Linked DNA regions of Homo sapiens. The protein of the gene in region 2 purifies or fractionates together with the protein of the main gene of each other region. This does not show direct contact. Each region holds a gene or a part of one and is shown on either strand. Other genes may lie near its edges.

Region 1 (3,500 bases), on a different chromosome or scaffold from region 2:
GAAACTAGAGTGGGTAAGAAGCAAGAAGCAGGAGCTAATGATAGTCACCTTGGGTGTACGTCCTGGGATGGGGTGGGGCGGCCTCTAGATTTATCTGAAATGTTTGAACCTTTTATGATGTGAATGTGTGTAAAATGAGTGTCACTTGAATAATAAACAGAAACTAAGAATTGTTTAGAAGAAAGAAAAGAGACCGAGTGTGGAGACAATGAGGATGGAGCGATACGCAAACAGAAAAACAGAGAGGCAAAAACTGAAAAAGAGAAAAGACAAAGTAAGAAAAAAAAGACTGAAATACAGATGGGGACAGGCTGGAGAGGTGAAGAAAGAGAATGAGAAAGATTAAACACACAGAGAAGCAGACACAGGGTGGAAGGTCCTTCCAAGGCCCACGGCGAGGGGTGCAGGGTTCCACCCCAGTCCCTGGTGGTCGCAGATGCCCTCACCCCTGGCCCTGGCTGACCTGGAGGACCCGCTTGGTGAGGCCCGTCTTTTGCGCGAGCTGCTTCAAGTCCTTGGCGTCGGGGTTGTGGTTAATGGCAAAGTAAGACTTCATGGTCCGAAGCTGGTGGTGCTTGAAGGACGTGCGCATGCGCTTGGTCTTCTGGCTGCTCGGGTATGGCTGGTCACGGTCCAGGTGCTCTGCGTCGTTTTCGTTGCAGCTTAGCGCTAGGGAGGAGACACAGAGCCGGTGGGTGAACTTCCTGACCCGCCCCCCATGCCAAATCCACACTCGCCCCACCCACTGCCAAACATTTCAATCCTTAACCCTGCTGCATGTCTGCGCCACAATGAAAGGGGGACATCATCCCCATTTTATAGATGGAAACACTGAGGCTCAGAGACAGCGATCCACCCAGGATCACACTGCTAAGAACTGCAGCACTGAATCCCGGCTCTGGGAGAATCCAAAAATCATTCTGAGCCATTATGTTACAATAAGAACAATAGTAGCAGCAGCAGCAGCAGCAGCAACAACAGCTACGACTTGTTGATGGCCGATTGAACTCCAGGTGATGTGTTAAAGGGCTTTCCAGGCACATTTTCTTTAGGTACTTAAAACAATCCTAGGAGCACCAGGTATTATTTTTCCCGTTTTTACAGATGTTGAAACTGAGGCTCAGCAAGGGAAGTCACTTGACTTTGGACACAGCAGGACAGGGTCTCTGGGCCTGCCCTCCTCCTGTTTTCCAAGGCACTCTAAGGAGGAGTGCTTTCTGCCGTCTCCCCCTACCGTGTCTGGGACCGGCACCTAGAAACTGCTGAAACAGAGATTCATGTTCATTTTGCCACACCCAAAAGTACTGAGGGACCCCTGGGCCTTGGGCACTGGGCCAAAGGTTGGAAACTGCATTTTGCAGTTTAATCCTCATCGCTACCCTGTAAGATGATTGTTTCTCCGTGAACAAGTGGAGCAAATTAGGCTCGGGGAAGTTCAGAGATCTGCGGCAGTCCACAGAGAGCGGCAGAGTGGACGGGGAAGGAAGTCCGAGGCAGAAATAAACATGTAGTAGACACCTATGGTGTGTGTTTGGCTTTACAAATGTCACTGTACATCATTACCTCTCAGAGAGGTGGCTATGACTATTCCCATTTTAGAGATGTGGAAACTAACGCTAAGGGAAATGAAGCCACTTGCACACTGCCACACCACCGGTAACCAGCTAGATTGATCTTGATCTGTTGAGCCTAGATTTAGCACTGGAGTACTCCTTGTTTTCTTCCACTACACCACGAAGGGAGGAGGGAGCCTGTCCCTAACCACAAGGAGCCTCATGGGGGCCACGCTGCCAATGCCTGGCTGGCATTGGGGGTGGGGAATATGGGTGAAAACCTGGGCCTCAGAAAATTGCTCAGCCACCTGGAAGCTGATGGGGACCTGCAGGACCCCTCCCAAGGTCGCCTCCTCATGGCACCTCCCGAGCCATGCCACACTTAAGGTCTTGCCTTGGGGTAAGCCTCATAAGGGGTGTACATTCGGTCCGCCTAAAGTGAGAACTGAGAAGGTATCTTGTGCCCTCATCACATACCCGTAACAGAGCTCTAGATTTAGCAAATGAAAATACAGGTTGCCCAGTTAAATATAAATTTCAGAAAAATAATAAGTAATTTTTTAGTATAAGCATGTCCTAAATATTGCATGGGACATACCTATACTAAAAATGTATTTGTTGTTTACCTGAAATTCAAATACTACAGGTGACACAGCTATGCTAAAAAATTGTCATTTATCTAAAATTCAAATATTACACGGGACACTTATACTACAAATTTCAAATTTATTCGTTATTTTTCCAAAATGCAAATATTGCCGGGGACACTTACACTAAAAATGTATTTGTTACGTACCCAAAATTCCAATTTAACTGGGGATGCTGCATTTTGCCTGGCCACACTACCTCCAAAGGACTTTTACTCTGCTGGTGACCTCCCCCTTCCCCTGCCCAGATGGGGAAGAGCCCCTTGCAGAGAGAATTTGCAAGATACAAGTCTTGCCCCTGCCTTTGGAGCTGTTAGCTAGGGGCTACACCTCCTAGGGGCCTCTTTCCACCGGCACTCAGGTCCCCTCACCCCCGGGGCTGCATTCCCACAGAGAGCACGCCCAGAGTGAAGAGCGCGGGTCCGGCAATTTAAAGGGGATCAGAGGATGCCTCTGAACCTGATCCACCAGAACTGCTTGGAACCCGCTGAGGTGAGCAACCCTTTTCTTTCCCCCAGTCCCCAGCTCCACTGGGGGTGGGGCAGCCTCCCTACGGGGTATCTTTGGGCCCATCCCTCCACCGAGCCCCCGCCTGGGCCTGGCTGCTGTTAATGAGCTCCGTGGGGACCCCGGCGCCCCCATGGGCCCAAGGGACCTGCCCTGAGTGCCGCCTAGGTGGGGTAGTAGTGCGGGGGAGGGGGACAGAAAGGGCAGAGAAAGGAGAGAAAAAGACAAACACAGAAAGGCAGAATGGAGGGAGAGAAAGAGAGAGGGGGTAGGGACGGAAGATGGACAGAGCCAGGAAAAAGAGAGGACAGACAGAGGAAAAGAAAGCGAAGGAGCCAGGAGAACCACAGAGAGACAGCTACAAAGACAGCAAGAAATAGGGAGAGCGGAGGGGAAAGCGAGTCCCGGAAACAGGCGCAGCTTGTGGCGAGGGTCCGGTGGCCGAGCTGAATCCCGGGGCTCCGGGAGACCCGGTCCCTGCGGGGGAGGCCTTTTCCGAAGCCGTTATTGGCGGGGGAGTAGAGAAAAGGGGAAAGAAGGGGAGTGGAGAAAAAGGGAAAGGAGCCGGCCCTAAGTAGCGAGGCCGAGGCCGGCCAGAGGCAAGGGCAGGGGGCGGCGGCGGGGGAGGCAGCCGTGGGGCCCAGGTTTGGCCGGCGCCCCGAACCCCCTCACTCCCGCCCCCAGTGCCCGGGGGCGGGTCGAGATTCCCCAGGATCGGATCCGGGGAGGAGCGAGGGGCCGAGGGGAGGGGGAGGACCCGGGCTTTCTCTCTCCTTTTTTTTTTTTTTCCTCT
Region 2 (3,500 bases):
AGAGCCAGAGAATAAGAAGTTGTGGTATCATTTTGCCAATACTGTCCATTTTAGCACAAAAGGGATAACTTAGTGTCAACATTTATGCTCCTAAAGGATGTTGGGTCAAATGAAATGTTCCTCATTGTTTCTCTCTCTTGATCTCTCCTTCACTCCTTCTCTTCCTTGCAGGATCTCCAACTCCTTCATAAGGGCACTCTGTGTTACCCCTTTAAACAAAATAAAGAAGTCCTACATTCTGCCCAGATTTTTTTCAGGCTCCACCAAAGGGTTGGGTGAATTATGGCCCAAAAGTTGGTGAGGATGATGGTGAACCTTCAATCACCTTCAGTCTCCCAACCAACAATGGTCATGGCTTGTTTTCTCCCTGGATTACATGGAGAAAATCATGCCCTACTTTTTGGACCTGTTGCTTCTACATTTGTATGGTAACTGTGAAACCATCCTAATGAACAGCAAACATTAACCACTACATAAAATGTAGACTTTGAATAAAAACACAGCTAAGTACTAACCAACTTGCCCTTTAAGCCAATTCCCTGTAGCTACTTACAGCATGACTGTTAGCTCCTTTCCTTATAGTTTCTTACTGCCTAAAAGTCACATAGATGTGGTCACAAGGCACTAACTTCCCTTAGTTATTTCTATAAGATAATATATGTAACGTTAAGAAACATCAAGTTTCTATCTAAAAAGTTTTCCAGATCTTGGAATCCCATGGGTCTGCTGACACCAGTCAGTCTGAAGACCCCCTCCAAGGAATTGACTCAGCAAAAAAACAAAAAAAAAAAAAAACAACAACAAAAAAAAAACAAAACAAACAAAAAAAAACTTCCAGTTTTCATCTCTGTATGTTTCATTTCATTCCCTATACCCCAACAAATCAGCAGCTCCAGACCTTCAGCACCTTACCTGCCTTTCTCTTAAAAATCCTAAACTTAGACTCAGCAGGGAGGTAGATTTGAGGTTTCCTCAACCTTCCTCATTTTTCTGCCATTCAATTATTAAACTCTTTCTCTACTGCAATACCTGCTGTTTTGGTATATTGGTGTGTTACTGTGCAATAAGAACAACTCTGGTGAGCCTAAAATAACTTTTTCTGGTTGCCTCTCTAATTTTGTTCCCAATATCTACTTGTAGGCCTACCTCCTCAATTTCCATGGTTCTCCTATTCCTAGGTCTTTTTTAAAGACTTAATTTCTTCCACTGAATTGTGTCTCCTGAACATTCACTTGAGCACAACTTCACCTGCAGCCTTGCTTTAGGAAATATTCCATAACTGGACATAAGAAACTCTTGCTTTCTTAATATCTATGACTACCCAAAAGATGAGTATAATTCTGATTAAAACTAAATTAGACTGTCAGAATGTGGATAACTATTGAACCAAAGCATATTATTTTGAAGAAGACTAAGAATTTGGAGAAGAGAATTAGGAAGTCTTTAAGGAAAAAAAAAAGTGAAAGCTATCTTTTGGGAATTTTGTTTTCTTTCTTAATAGTACTAGCTTTCACAGCTAGTAAGAGGACTTCAGAATTATTTGGAGCATAAATATAAGAACTTTCTTACTGATTTGCCCCAGTAACCTAAATGGAAGGACACATGGCTAGGATGATTTGGAATTCAATTAATGAAAATCAAGCATGGGTTTGTTAGAAGAGGAATATTTATTTTTTCCCATAGAAATAAAATGTAAATTGTTAAAAAAAAGTTGGCTCATTTTAATTAATTCAATTACTTAGAGTCATTCATATTTTCATTCAGATATAAATGAAACACTCTTCCTTCTTTATTTTTATTTCCTCTCCCCAGCTTTTCATTCTCTTTCAGTCTTCCTTTCTGTTTTTCGTTTGTTTGTTTTGTTTTATTTGGTTTTTTTGAGCCAGGATCTCACTCTTTCTCCCTGGCTAGAGTACAGTGGCACAATCTCAGCTCACTGTAGCCTCCACCTCCAAGGCTCAATCAATCATCCTGAGTAACTGGGACTACAGGCACGTGCCATCATACCCAGCTAATTTTTGTGGGGTTTGTTTTGTTCTTTCTTATTTTTTTTTTTTTTTTTTGCAGTGGAGATGGGGTTTCATCATGTTGCCCAGGCTAGTTTTCCTTTCTATATACAGAAAAATTTAAAGTGAATGTGATGTTGGAGAGAGTGGGAAGGAAAAGTAATGGCAAGTATGCTTGCTCATTACCAGGCACTGTGCTAAGCTCTGTGAATACACAGATAAGTAAAATCCACGCTGTTTCTCAAAGAACTCACAATCTGTTTAAGAAGCAGATGTCTATACAATAATTTTATAACTATTATTCAATGTGATTAGTACTCACATAGCTCTATATAGAGTGTTATAGAAGAATAAATTAGAGAATATCTCATTTTTCCTCCAGTGGTTTAAAAAGATGTCACAGAAACTGAATTGTAAATGGTACGGAAATATGGAGGGGTGGTTTGCAGTAGGACCTATCTTAGCCCACCGCTTCTCAGGTTTTGGCCTTTGAACTTGAGATATGACTGTTCCAAGGACAGAAGGCAAAACGAACAAAAGCAAAATCTGAAGCAGGCTGTCAATAGAGATTGACTCTCATTGCGGCACACCAGTACAGGCTGGGCCAAATGTCAGAATCAAGGCAACTTATCTCAAATGCAGGGCTGTAACGCTCTCTCAATTGCACCTGAAAATGAAACAAACAAGAGTGGAAATGAAACATATATCCTAATGTAGCTTTCAGGACTAGGGCATGCAGGTGGGCCCCAGTCATCTAATAACTGATGTATAACTTAGGATTTTTCAAAAGGCACCAGTGATCTATGACAGGGGGAGAAAAGGGCCAGATTACCAGTTTCCTCAAGAGGCAAATCTTCTAAAAAATCATCTGCAGCCCGCAGCATCTGCCTCAGTGCAGAGAGGATGAGAATATCCTTCATGGGGTCCAGTTCCAAATCTGAAGCATAATTTCCAACCATCAAAATATTGGAAATAGGAATGCCTAGCATTTTATGGACATTCATGACCTGTGGAAAGTATATTTAAAAAGTGTAAGTCCTGTATTTAATATTTGAAATTTGACCAATTTTAAATACAATTTAAGAAAGAAACCAAAAAAGCAATGGCTTAATAAGTTATCTTCGGAACATACAATAATTCAGATCATTGCAGTTTTAAAGTGTGATATAAATTTGAATTAATCAAGCAATTGATCCCATTCTTCATTTCCCTGCAAATACACTCTGTAAGCACATATACACGTACAGACACACACAAACACACACACGTATGATTGTGATACTATTACAATAATATCTGGTTATGATCAGCATTTTTTACCCGGCTTTGAGAAGTCATAGATCTACTCATGTTTAAAAAGTTGTCTTGAAGAACCTCACTGCAATCATCCACTTTAGTAAGCAAGGCCACATATGCTATACCTATATCAAATAGATAAATCAGTTATTTTATATCATAAATAGCAATGTGTCAACAAGTTATTAAATATGTGTG
Region 3 (3,500 bases), on a different chromosome or scaffold from region 2:
AACACCCATGGACACAAACTCTCCCTGAAAATAACAATGTTTCACATACTCATGATGATTAGTTTACACAACTGACACATGAACTAATAAAATTAAACCAGGTGACCCTTTCTTACTATGTTCATAACATCATTACTGTGTAAGGAACTATCATCAGCACCAGGTACTGGTGACAAGGTAACTTTCATGGATATTATTTCATTCCACGCTTCCATATCATATGTGAAGTAGGCCAGGGAAACCTAATCCTCATTTTACAGATGAGGAAGCTGTGGCATAGAAGAAAAAAATTCACCCCTACTATGTATCAGGCATTGTGCCAGGTGTTTTCCATGTGCAATCTCCTTTAACCCTCACAACCCTGTGTATAATAGTAATGTCATGTAAAAGATGACAAAACAGCTCAGAAAGGTCAAGGCTAACAAACCCCGAAGTTTACTTGTTAATAGGCAGCTGAGCTGAGAAATGAACCTAACCTGACTGACTGCTAAGGCTATATTCTTTTTATATTATATCATCAGGCAACAAAAATAAAATAGAGTGACCTGTGCAAATCACTAAATCCTTACCTCTGGGGTTCCAAACCAGATGTCCCTGACGTGGTCACAGATGGCTTTTGCAGCAGACATGGCACTGGATAGTTTTCGAGCCTTGATGACAGCAGCGCCACGCTGCTGCACAGTCTGGGAAGGGGGCAGGTGAAGGCAGCAGTATTACTTGGTCATGATAGCAAAGTTTTCATTAATTCCAAGTCGACCTTGGGGTGAAAAGCTATGACCAGAGCTTAATGTTTCCCCTCCAAAATCATGCAACAACCCAATGTCAGCCTTACCAATCCTTCTGGAAAAAGGAAACTATGTATCTCCATACAAAGTTTATCATAGGTCAGACAAAGACATGGATCTTGGTATAAATCTCAACTGCTGTCACATCAGATCACACTAGATCATGACTGGCTTACTATGATCCCGAAAGTATGCAGTCATCAGAGCAACTGTGAAAGACCTGCCCTCTTTAAGGTTTTCTGTCCTAAGAGTCTCTCAAGAGTTCTTTACGCTCAGTGTTAAGAAGGCTCACAGATTTTTCTTACCGTGACAAATTCTCCCTTGAGCCAGCTGTCATCTTTCAGAGCTTCATAAACACCAACTTCCTTTCCTTGCAATTTCACCTTGGCATGGTTGACATCTGGATACTGAGTCGAGGAATGGTTTCCCCAGATAATGACATTCTTTACATCATTAGCAGTCACACCAAGTTTAAGAGCAATCTAGTTAAATTGAAAACAAATACATTACTGAGACAAATGGTTTTTATTTCCAATTGGGACCTGTTTTGACAAATGCCCTTAAATAAAGATAAAAAGCTTCTGAAATTTCAAGAGAACACAAGAGTTATATTGACTTGTAAAAAATGTAAATTTATTGCTTGGCAATTTCCTACAACAGCTTAACAGTGGTAACAACTGTGGACTTGAAACCTTATGGAGTAGAATGTTTAAGGGTATGAAGCATCCCATAGTTTGTGGTTAACTTATTAGTACAGTAGGTGTATCAAACATAAAACATTAATCGTTACTATTATTTATCAATTTACTATTTCTTGAATATGTAAATGTGATCTTTTGTTTCACTGTTAATGTTTACTTGGAGATGTCTTCTCAGTGCTTCTGAGTAATCAGGTATTTAGGCACTTTATATTTAGGTAAAATTTTTATTATATACCATATAGAAATTAATTTTCAAATAACCCTAAATATGAAATTTTAGAGTTGGATAGGACTCAAATTACCAAGATATGACTGTCCTCATTTTATATATCAGGAAACTGAAGGAAAGAGGTTTTATATATGTGTATGTGTGTGTGTGTACACACATATATACACTCTAAAATTATAACATATGTAACAATCTCTAGCTATAACTCCAGAAAGCACTTTAGGGTCCTGCAATGCCTTGCAATCACATGTAGTACAGTAGCCACAAAAAAGGTTAGAAAGTTATGTCTTGGGCTGGGCATGGTGGCTTACGCCTGTAATCCCAGCACTTTGGGAGGCCAAGGCGGGCAGATCACCTGAGGTTGACAGTTCGAGACCAGCCTGACCAACATGGAGAAACCCTGTCTCTACTAAAAATACAAAGTTAGCCGGGCTTGGTGGCACATGTCTGTAATCCCAGCTACTTGGGAGGCTGAGGCAGGAGAATCGCTTGAACCTGGGAGGCGGAGGTTGCGGTGAGCCAAGATCGCACCACTGCACTCCAGCATGGGCGATGCAGCGAGACTGTCTCAAAAAAAAAAAAAAAAAAAAAAGAAATGTCTTGGTAGATTTAAATAAAATCAGCCTGCTTGTTATTTGTCTGATAAGTTTATGTGCAGAAAATAAATTATGATCAGGTATATGTATAATTTGTTCCTAACTAGACAACAGAATTTATGATGAACCAGAAGGGAATGTGGAAAAATATTTTAAGAAGCTGATCTGTTTTGGTGACATTGTGGGCAATTCTTCCTTCCTCTGTGTCCCAAAAAGAATGGGAGAAGAAACTAGTTGTGCCAGAGTCTGTAGCTTTAGCACACATAAATAAAGCATTTGAGTATTTACCATGTAAGAAAAGGAATACACTTTGATATTTTAAGGAAAATTTTAAAATAAGGGTAATAACAGCTCCAAACTGAAACAACTCAAATGTCGTTCAAGAATGGTTAAATATGCCAGGCGCGGTGGCTCACACCTATAATCCCAGCACTTTGGGAGGCCGAGGTGGGAGGATCAGGAGGTCGAGATGGAGACCATCATGGCCAACACGGTGAAGCCCCGTCTCTACTAAAAATACAAAAATTAGCTGGGTGTGGCAGCGTGTGCCTGTAATCCCAGCTACTCAGGAGGCTGAGGCAGGAGAATCTCTTGAACCTGGGAGGCGGAGGTTGCAGTGAGCCGAGATCGTGCCATTGCACTCCAGCCTAGGCGACAGGGCGAGACTCTGTCTCAAAAAAAAAAAAAAAAAAAAAAAAAAAAAAAAAAAAAAAAAAAGAACGGTTAAATAAACTGTATTATGTCTTACATAGGCAATGGAATAAATAAAAGGGGTAAGTGGAAAAACAACAAAAAGAAACAAACAACAACCTGGATGGATCTTAAAGGCATTAAACTGAGTGAAAAAGAGCCAGTCTCAAAAGGTTCCTTACTGCATGATTCCACTTTTGTAAATTCTCAAAATGACAAAATTATAGAGGTGGAGTGCAGAAAAATGATGTCAGGGACAGAGGGTGGTGTGACCATAAGGGAGAGTATGAAGGAGTTCTTTTGTGAGTGATGAAGAAATTCTGTACCTTGACTATGGGGGCAGTTACAGGAATCTACACTTGTAATTAAATGTCATAGAATCATTCATAAAGACACAGAAAAAAATAAGTGAATATAAAACTGGTGAAACTTCAGTAAGTCTAGTTAATAGTATTGTGTAGTTCATCAACTTCCTGGTTTTGATAATACTCTGTAGTTA
Region 4 (3,500 bases), on a different chromosome or scaffold from region 2:
CTTAAAGGAAATGGACAAGAGAGTGGCAAGAAAGGAGGACCTAAGGAGATGGCAAATTTAAGGCCGGAAGGACGGCTCTATCAGCATGGGAAACTTACACTGCTGCATAATGGAGAACCTCTCTACATTCCAGTAACCCAGGTAGGATGCACTAGTTCTTTCCATTTTAATTTATTTTGTGGTTTATATAACTTCATCCTAGTAGAAGATAGTGCTTTGAGTAAGGAAAATTATCCAAAAAGTCTATGTTTAGGCCAGATGCGGTGGCTTACGCCTGTAATCCCAGCACTTTGGGAGGCTGAGGTGGGCAGATCACCTGAGGTCAGGAGTTCAAGATAAGTCTGGCCAACATGGTGAAACCCTGTCTCTACTAAAAGTACAAAAATTAGCTGGGCACAGTGGCGCACACCTGTAGTTCCAGCTACTGGGGAGGCTGAGGCAGGAGAATCATTTGAACCCAGCAGTGGGAGGTTGCAGTGAGCCGAGATTGCACCACTGCACTCCAGCCTGGGCAACAGAGCAAGACTCTTGTCTCAAAAGAAAAAAAAAGTGTTTATGTTTAAAGATAAAGATATAGACTGTTTAAAGAAACTAAAGGTAAGGATTTCCCAATGACATAGATAAATGTGGTCTTGATTTAATCAAGGACCTTTAAAAGATTGGACAAAGTCTATGTTTAAAGATTAAAGAAATCTAAATAAACTTTTGGGGCTTTTAGGTTTGCCATTTCTGTAATTGAGAAATGTTTTGAAGTTTAAGTAGATCACGTCATCATATATAAGGTGATTTATAAACTGAGCAGTGAATGCTCAGATGTTTAAAAAAGAAAATCCAACTGCACTTATGTATGTTTTTGTTTAACTTGTGGACAAAGACTTATGGATAGGTGCAAAAAATAAATCCTCTTTTGCAACCCAGAACTCATTGTTCAGTATGAGTTTTGATACATATAAGAAGGGATATTATGATACCTGAGACAGTTAACTGATGGGAATATTGATAGCCATAAAGGTTGGTCCCAGACCAGGCACAATGGCTCAAGCCTGCAAGCCCCACACCAAGGTGGGAGTATTGCTTGAAGCCAGGAGTTCAAGACCAGCCTGTATAAGAAAGTAACAAACACCTCATCTCCACAAAAATTTAAAAATTAGCTGAGTATTGGGGCATGTGTCTGTAGTTGCAGCTACTCAGGAAGAGGAGGCTGAGGCAAGAGTATTGAGCCCAGGAGTTGGAGGCTGCACTGAGCTTTGATGACACCACTGTACTCCAGCCTGGGTAACAAAGACAGACCCTGTCTCTTAATTAAAAAAGATTGATTCTAGGACTGTGGAAGAGATAGTTAAACAGCATGGGATATGAAGGAAATCCTCAGCAGTATTAATTTTGCATTCCAATTTCATGTTGACTTGATACCTACGATGGCTTTTTGTTTTAAAGGCTTTTATCTTGAGAACATGATGTCTGTAGTTAAAGGTATTGGCGTATTCCACACATCTGTACTATTCTTGAGTATGATCGCTTAGGGTGTCAAATTGAGAACCAGGCAGATCCACCACCTACAGTAAAAAGGACCCTAAAGTAAATTGGTTGAAGAAGTTAGATCCCAAAGATTCTTGGTGAATTTTGAAGTCTTCATCAGTATATCCATATTAAAAGGAGATGACAGAAGCCAAAATAAAAGAATTATGGGCTAACAGGACAGCTGGATTAAAATAAGCATCAGTTTCATTAAAAAGGGCTAACTTGAAGATAAATCTTTTGACTCCAGCTCTTTAGAGGATCTGAAGTGACCTTGATGGACAGTGGAAGAAATCACAACATGGAATTACTTGAACAAAAATTTATTGACTTAAAGAAAAAGAAAAAATCCAAAAATATATAGAGAGAACAAAAGTAAATATCCTTCAATTATATGATTAGCTTTTATCTGTTCAAAAATAGTTTGAAGTCATATACACCATTAGGATGTAGAACAGCAATAACTCAACAACAACAGCAGCAATAGTTGTTTTTAAGGGTTTTGTTTTGTTTTTTTTTTGTTGTTTTTTTTTTGACACAGAGTCTCTCTTTGTCACCCAGGTGGGAGTGCAGTGGCATGACTGTAGCTTACTGCAGCCTTGACCTCCTGGGATCAAGTGATCCTCCCACCGCAGCTTCTCAAGTAGCTGGAACTACAGGTGCATGCCACCATGCCTGGCTAATTTTTCGTGGTTTTTATAGAGGTGGGGTTTTGCCCTGTTGTCCAGGCTTGTCTTAAATTCCTGAACTCAAGCCATCTGCCTGCCTCAGCCTCCCAAAGTGCTAGGATTACAGACATGATCCACTGCACCCGGCCTGAAAACATTCTATTGTGAAAATTGTAATCTAGTAAAAATGAAAGAGGCTCAACGCCTGTAATCCCAACACTTTGGGAGGCCGAGGTGGGGTTGGATTGCTTGAGCCCAGGAATTCAAGACCAGCCTGGGCAACATGGTAAACCCTATTTCTACCAAAAAAAAAAAAAAAAAAATTAGCCGACTGGGGTAGCGTACACCTGTAGTCCCAGCTACTCGGGAGGCTGAGGTAGAAGAATCAATTGAGCCCGGGAGGTTAAGGCTGCAGTGAGCTATGATTGTGTCACTGTTCTCCAGCCTGGGCAACAGAGCAAGACCCTGTCTCAAAAAAATAAAAAGTGAAAGCCACCATCCACTAATTTTGACTTGCATTCCTTGAAGTAACTAACAAGTATTATTGGTTTGGGTTATATTTCTTATAACTGTTTCTCTGCATTGATGTATAATACATATATGTGTGTACATATTAATACATGGTTTTATGGATTTTTTTTTTTTTTTGGAGACAGGATCTCATTCTGTTGCATAGGCTGGAATGCAGTGGCATGATCATGGCTCACTGCAGCCTTGACTTGCTGGGCTCAAGTGATCCTCTGACCTTAGCCTCCTAGGTAGCTGGGACTACAAGTGCTCACCACCATGCCAGGCTGATTTTTTCACTTTTAAAATTTTTGTAAAGATGGAGTCTTGCTATGTTGCCCAAGCTGGTCCTAAACTCCTGACCTCAAGCAATCCTCTGTTTCGGCCTCCCAAAGTGCTGGGATTATAGGCATGAGCCACTGTGCCCAGCCTCAATTTCTTATAAACAATTGGTATTACCAACCATATAAATTTTTGTTAACATGATGGTCAAAAGTAGTATCTCAGTGTTTTAGATTGTATTTTTCTGAATTTTCATGAACCTGAGCATCTTTTAATATGTTCGTTAGCCGTCCTTTCCTGTGAATCGCCTATGATTTTTCTTTTAGGTTGCTCCCCTGTTCTTATTGATTCATATGAATTCTTCATATTTTAGATGTGAATCTACAGTTATATATATTGTATATGTTTTCTGCTAGTCATTTTAAAAACATATGTTCATGTATTTACTTAATTATTGAGTTATAACTTAATACAATAAAGTGTACAGATCTTGGCTGGGCATGGTAGCTCATGCCTGTAATCCCA

The links.
Region 1: the proteins of IFI44L (region 2) and LHX2 purify together in Homo sapiens (affinity purification with mass spectrometry, with the first as the bait; one large-scale study listed by BioGRID). This does not show direct contact.
Region 3: the proteins of IFI44L (region 2) and MDH1 purify together in Homo sapiens (affinity purification with mass spectrometry, with the first as the bait; one large-scale study listed by BioGRID). This does not show direct contact.
Region 4: the proteins of IFI44L (region 2) and RAB3GAP1 purify together in Homo sapiens (affinity purification with mass spectrometry, with the first as the bait; one large-scale study listed by BioGRID). This does not show direct contact.

The regions. Positions count from the first base shown.
Region 1 is NC_000009.12:124,018,268-124,021,767, reverse strand, and holds part of LHX2 (LIM/homeobox protein Lhx2), read right to left. Parts: intron 670-3,500; coding exon 464-669; intron 1-463. UniProt on the Homo sapiens protein: Acts as a transcriptional activator. Stimulates the promoter of the alpha-glycoprotein gene. Transcriptional regulatory protein involved in the control of cell differentiation in developing lymphoid and neural cell types.
Region 2 is NC_000001.11:78,640,948-78,644,447, reverse strand, and holds part of IFI44L (interferon-induced protein 44-like), read right to left. Parts: intron 3,428-3,500; coding exon 3,327-3,427; intron 3,014-3,326; coding exon 2,839-3,013; intron 2,674-2,838; coding exon 2,639-2,673; 3' UTR 1-2,638.
Region 3 is NC_000002.12:63,602,463-63,605,962, reverse strand, and holds part of MDH1 (malate dehydrogenase, cytoplasmic), read right to left. Parts: intron 1,268-3,500; coding exon 1,091-1,267; intron 684-1,090; coding exon 570-683; intron 25-569; coding exon 1-24. UniProt on the Homo sapiens protein: Catalyzes the reduction of aromatic alpha-keto acids in the presence of NADH. Plays essential roles in the malate-aspartate shuttle and the tricarboxylic acid cycle, important in mitochondrial NADH supply for oxidative phosphorylation.
Region 4 is NC_000002.12:135,135,792-135,139,291, forward strand, and holds part of RAB3GAP1 (rab3 GTPase-activating protein catalytic subunit), read left to right. Parts: coding exon 1-141; intron 142-836; exon of another isoform or gene 837-964; intron 965-3,500. UniProt on the Homo sapiens protein: Catalytic subunit of the Rab3 GTPase-activating (Rab3GAP) complex composed of RAB3GAP1 and RAB3GAP2, which has GTPase-activating protein (GAP) activity towards various Rab3 subfamily members (RAB3A, RAB3B, RAB3C and RAB3D), RAB5A and RAB43, and guanine nucleotide exchange factor (GEF) activity towards RAB18.